2 separate regions of the Homo sapiens genome follow, and region 1 is linked to region 2. A link means that fine-mapping ties the variant in region 2 to the expression of a gene that starts in the linked region. Tissue or cell type: sun-exposed skin. Region 2 holds a variant in brackets; the other region holds the start of a gene. All regions are shown on one strand. Distances are between the middles of the regions.

Region 1 (2,900 bases), 35 kb before region 2:
TCTGCTTGGGAATCCTACCGCCACTCAAAGCTTCTAGCTTGACCTTCAGGATGCTTGTCTGCCTCTGGCCAGCTGCAGTCCCAGGGCAAGTTGCCCTCCACATGCTGCGTCCAGCCCCTTCCCATCCCCCAACTCCTCCCCAGGGCCGCTCATGGGAAGAGCCAAATGCTGTGTCTTGGAGAGGGCCAGGGGGGCTTTGCGGGACATTGTAAGGCTGGGGAAGATAAAGGGAGTCTGACGCACCTGCACTCAAAAACATAAAAATGGTCGGAAGAATTAGCAGGTGTCCACCACCCCACCCCCATCTTCCAAAAAGGGGCTGAGCTCCATCCAGGGGTGAGGCTCCCCTCCTCAGCTCCACGTGAAATGCAATCGGCTTCCGGCTGGGTTCCCTCCTGAGGGTCTAGTTGCATCCATCGGCTCCCCTGTCCCTTCTGAGCCCCCTAACCTGCCAAGGTCCCGCCGAGGATGTGGCCTCCGCCCCCCGCAGCCGCCGCAGGAGCTTCTGCCTCTAAAGCGGCAGGCAGGGGTCTCAGCGGGCCCACTTCAACCTGGGAAGGCCGGTGCGTTTCCCCACAGACCCCGCAGGGCGTTTCTTCTGGGGACCACTGAAGCCCTGGCATCCCCAACCCCAGCCCCTCCGCGCCACGGGAAACGAAGACGACACTCTTTTGAACAATCCCGGATGTGTCACCACAGAGGGGCATTCTACACTGGCCCCTACCCCAACCCCCACCTAGCACATTGCTTGCCCACCCCTCAAACCCCGTGCGGATTGCGGTACCTAGCCCCGGGGGACCCTCCAGCCCTGCCTTCCCGATCCGCGTAGGTGCGTCCGTCCACCTAAGGGTAGGGAGGCATGTCCCTCCGGGTCCCTCCGGCCGCATGGCTTGCCTGCCCCCCTGGTCTCCCTTCTCCGCATCAGGAGGGGCGTGAGATAGCTAGGTCGACCCCCACCCCGGCAGTCTGCGGCGATCGGCCGCCCCGAGCGCAGCGCCAGACACTTGGGTTGGGGGGTGTCAGCCTGACGCGCAGGAAGGGCGCAGCGGCGGGAGGGGGCTTCATTTCAGATCTGGGAGGCTTGCCTGGCGCCGGCCCTCGCCCGCTCTCCGTCGGTGGAGGTCGCGGCTGGCGGAGACCGCCAAGCCAGAGGAGGGGATCCGAGGTCCCGGCTGGGCGAAGGTTCTGGAGGGGGAGAAGACGGCCGAGGCGTGGAGGGGCAGCCGCGGCGGGGCGACCCTTACCTGCTCACTGCGGGGCCTGTCCGTGGGGCCGGGGCAGACTCCGCAAAGGACGCGCAGCCTGCAAGTCCGCGGCCCGCGCGGCGCGGGGATGGGGAGCGTGTGCGCCGAGGAGCGCGCGCCGAGCCGGGTCTCCGCGCCTGTGTGGCCGGCTGGCGGCCGGGGTCCGTGTGTCCCTGCGCGGCGGCGTGTGCGTGTGCGCACGCGGGGACCACGCTCGCCCGGAGCCGCCGCCGCCGCCGTCACTCCCTGCCCGGGGCCGAGCGCAGCGCCCCCTTTGCCCGCCCCGCGCGGCGCGGCAGTCCAGCTTGGCTCCGTCCTGCGGGAGAGGCGCCGCCTCCGCCGCGAAGCCAGGCTGGGCGCTGGAGGGAGGCGACCGACCACCGCCTCCCCCTGCTCACTTCACAGGCTGGGGAGGGGGTGCTGCAGGCCAATGAGCGCCCGGGGGCGGGGTTAGATCGAGGGCGGTGCGGTGGGGGGCGCGGTGGGGGGCGCCGGGCTGCTCAACCCGACCCCACCCGCAGCACAGACTGGAGCAGGAGCTGCGGCGGGAAATCCCAGCGGCGGGGGTCGGGGGCGCTGAGGTGGAGCCCTCAGCCCCCTGTCATCCCCGTCTCCTCTGACTCTGGGCCTCCTGGGCTCACCACCCTCTTTCCAGTCTCTCCATCATAGCCAGGACTAGAAAGCCTTCTTTCTTCTCCCTAGGTCCTCAAGATTTCCTGTGTATCAGAGCCTGTCTTCCCTCTCCTCCAAGAAGCCTTCCTTACCAGGCAAGTCTCAGACCCTCCTTGGGCTCTTCTTTGCCCCTACCGCCCAGGCCTGGGAGGGTCAGCTAGTTTTGGGGTGCCTGTCGGGATGTCCTCCAATGTGACCCCCCCGCCCCCGGAGAAAGACCAGGAAGGGGATGGTGGTGCTTACAGGACAGAGGCAACTTAAAATATCAGACTGCCTGGCTCCAGTCCCTGCTGTGCCACAGCTCTGTGAGCTTGGGTAAGTGGCTCAGCCTCTCTGAGCTTCAGCTTCTTCATCTGCACAAGGGAACAATAGTACCGGCCCCCAGGTCTCTTCACAGCAGCATTAAATAAAAATGGTACACTCACCCCATAGTAGTTTCTCCCTGGTATCATTGATTCGCCGATGCTGAATAAATTACTATTGCTACTGTTATTACAGTCCTGTCCAACCTCCTCCTAGTGCAAATGGCTTAATAAGGAGAACTACACAGGTAAAGGTGGCCTAGCGGGTTGGCAGCGAAGCCCAAACTTAACTGAGAGTAGTTAGTTACCCACTCCCAGGCAAGTTCTCACCCTCTGCCCACCCCACCCAGCCCCCATCCCACAGCTGCTCCTGCCTGCCTCTGCTCTCGGTTTTTGGTCCCTGCCTCAGGCGTCAGTCTCTGAGAGCTCTCAGTTCTGCAGCCAGGCTCTGTTCTTGCCCATTCAAGTAAATTCTCGCTCAGCTTCCCTTTGGGTCCAAGTTCTAGGTATGGCCACCTTGTCCAGGAGGCCTCAAGAAGGGGGAAGGAGGAGGGAGAGCCTTGAGCCTTCCTTTGGGGTCGCCAGTCTACCAAAGAGGAAAGGACCTGTGGATGGAGAGGAATCCATATGGAAACTTGAAAGAAGCAATCTGAGGGCCCAGAAAGACGCGTGGAGGTTCCTA
Region 2 (2,900 bases):
GGTCAGAAACTGGCTTATAAACTGGAGGGCGGCTGGAAGAGAGAAGGCCAAGGAGAACAAAGAAACTGGCCATGTCCTCACCCCCTGCCCCTTCCACTGCAGGTTCCAGCCCTGAGTCTGGCATGGGGAAAAGAAGTGCCATTAAATCAATTTCAGAATTTTAATGAACATTTTGTCTGTGACACAGGAGTGAGCAGAAAAAACATGGGACCTACCTGAGTTTTCAGCTCATAAAGCAAGCAAGGATTTCTCCCATAATACAGTTTAAAGGGCCTGTGTGGTACAAAAATAAAATATCTTTTCAATAGACCCAAACTCTGCTTGTTCTGGTGCCTGTCCCAATAAATGTGGGCTAAAATTAACATCATTCCCACACCTTTGTGGTCTCGTCTCACCCTGATGGGACACATCGCTTGTCACGTACTCACAGGAGCACATGCATTCTTGGGTCATCCTTCTGTTTATCTGCCCTGGATACCTCCAGCTGCGGCTTACTACTAACCCATCCAGTGCCTTTGGCTAAGGAGGTCTCTGCCCCACTGGGCCCCAGTTTCCCTATCTGTAGCAGGATGAGACAAATAAGACCATTTCTAAGGGCTTGGTTTATCTTAACTGTTCAAGGTAACAGCAAGGTTTCCCTCATCCATGATCTTGAGAAGGCTTGGGCCTACGTGGGCAGAGGAAGCTGGAATGAGGACTATAGTAAGGAAAAAGGCACACATCAGGGAAGTCCACATAATCTGTATTTCTGGCTTCGTCTGAGCAGTTGGACAATCTGGCAGCATTGACCCAGCATGTGACAGCAGTCAGATGCAGCGTGTAGAACAGTCCCCTCATCCAGAACCAAAGCTCTCCCCTTAACCACACTCCTCACCAATCCCCATTGCTCCCCATCCCTAACGCCAGCTGGCATCTACCACTGGACCTGAGCTGTTGCTTTAGTAGAGATTGATTACTCTATCACTGTGTCACTATCAAAGGTAGAAAATTGAACTGGAGGATGAGAGGACATGTGTGTTTTACAAAAGATAGCAAAAGGGGACTATTTCCTTGGAAAGTACAACATGTCGACCCACCACTTGCCTGGTCCTGTGCTCTTATTGGATGTCCCAGCCTGAGGCTTCTAGCAATTGAGTCAGGGTTCTCAAGCCACTCAGAGACCACCTGGCCCTGCCCTACTTGC[T/C]GCTCCCTGCTGCCCCAACAGGACTGAAGGGTCTGCACAGGTCCCCAGCCTGCTGACATTCTCTGGGGGGCTCCCTCATCCCCTTTCTTCACCCATGCTAAGACAACCTTCTCTAGACCCAGAACCTCCTGTGGCAGCAGGGGAAGCCCATGCCTCCTCCCAAAAGGAAGAACGCCTGCATGGCAGACGCGGGAGCCTCCTGGAGCCAGGCTGGGCATGTGAGACGTGGGGCACTAAGGGGCCTTCCTGGGTGAGGGTCTTTCCTGGGACCCTCACTCTTTACCCCCCGCAGATTCCCCCTTGGAGAACCAGCCGAAACTGAAATTAATTCAGCCTCCTCAGGCCCTCTCCCTTCCTCCCTCTGCTGGAGTTCCCATGACAACCAGAGTTCACCTTTGATGCCAAAAACACTGCAAAAACAACAAAACTCCACCCTCCACTAAGAGGGAAGTGGGGCAAGGCCCTTCCCCTATATCCCCCCAAAAAAGCACAGTGCTGGAAATTTGGTAATCTGCAAGGAACCAGAAGCAGAGTGGGTGGGGCAATTCCAAAGGGACTTTTCCATTTTCCCTCCTGGGCTGCACTCCATTTTCTGCATGCTCACTGGTGGCTTACAGCTGACCCAGAGCTTCTTAATAGTGTCCATCTGATCTGGCGCTATTCAGGATGGTGAGCAGAGGACTGCGGGGGAGGGGGCAGTGCAAGGCTCAGAGGAGCAGCTGTAGCCCAGGTATGTAGGTTCAGAAGCTGCCCCGCTCTGCCTGGCCCAGGCTGTGTGACTTCAGACAAGGCGTCTCCCTTTCTGGTTCCCTAAATCCTCCCACTTCACTCCCTAGCCCCCTTCCTTCATTCACACCAAAGTATAAGTGACTGATAAGGCTTCAAGTGGCATGAGGAGCGGGCCTGTGACAGTGGCATTTAAGTCTTGAGGAGCCAGGCTGAACATCTGGGAGCATTTTCTACTTCTCTGAGATCGCACAAGATGAAGAAGGGAGTGAGTCTGACTCTCTGCCCAACCCCAGCCCCTGCCCACACCAGTCCCTTCAGGGGACAAACCACCAGCATGGGCCACTGCCTGAATGCTCACCATGTGAGCTGAAGGACAGTCATCACCAACATCTTGCCCTCCATCCCATTCCCCTAGGGTGGGACAGCTTCTGAAAAGCAGTGGTTGGGCAGCAGGAGCGGGGAGGAGTGTTGGGGGAGGAACAGCGGGACTGAGGTGATGGGAAAGGGCAGATAGTGAGCCTTAGGGCCCATATTTGGACCTGTGAGTGGAGAGAAGTGGCGTCTAGGCCTAGCTCTGCCCTCAGCTCCCTCAGCACAGTGTCTCCTCCCTGGGCCTCAGCCTCCTGAACAAGGAGAGAATTGGATGAACAGTGGTGGAGAGCATGGCATGATGATGTCCCACCAGACTGCACCTCAGTGGGACTTCGCCTTCACATCGGACCCCAGGCTTCCAATTCAGGTTGTGGAATGAAGGAAGGAAGGGTGAGGAGGAAGGATAGGTGGTGGGCATGGAGGTCAGGAGCAGAGGCAGGTGGCGGGGGGGGGGGGGTGCTGAGCCCCAGCAGGTGGCCAAGGCCCAGCCAATGGGGGCAGGTCAAGGAGCTGCCTCTACCTGGGGCCCCGTGGCCCCTGAGCCTGGGGAGGGAAGCTAAGAGACAGAAGGAAGATGCTGTGCCCTATGGGATTTACACCTGCCCCTAACATCCAA

Alleles and levels. Alleles are on the strand shown, and positions count from the first base shown. SD is a standard deviation of normalised expression in the study named.
In carriers of allele C in region 2, the expression in sun-exposed skin of the gene that starts at base 1,615 in region 1 tends to be higher than with T alone (small effect, 0.24 SD a copy in GTEx).

Evidence for each region.
Region 1: ADCYAP1R1 starts here. The variant in region 2 is fine-mapped to the expression of ADCYAP1R1 in sun-exposed skin (GTEx, PIP 0.93).

Annotation. Positions count from the first base shown.
Region 1 is chr7:31,051,023-31,053,922 of GRCh38, reverse strand. It overlaps ADCYAP1R1 (ADCYAP receptor type I), which reads right to left and starts at 1,615. Exons shown (of 16, transcript NM_001118.5): 1 at 1,245-1,615.
Region 2 is chr7:31,016,236-31,019,135 of GRCh38, reverse strand. The region is part of intron 2 of LOC105375222 (a long non-coding RNA gene); the gene reads right to left. Among named protein-coding and RNA genes, the nearest start is that of ADCYAP1R1, 35 kb to the left of the region's middle. The variant T/C (reference allele first, on the strand shown) is at 1,184.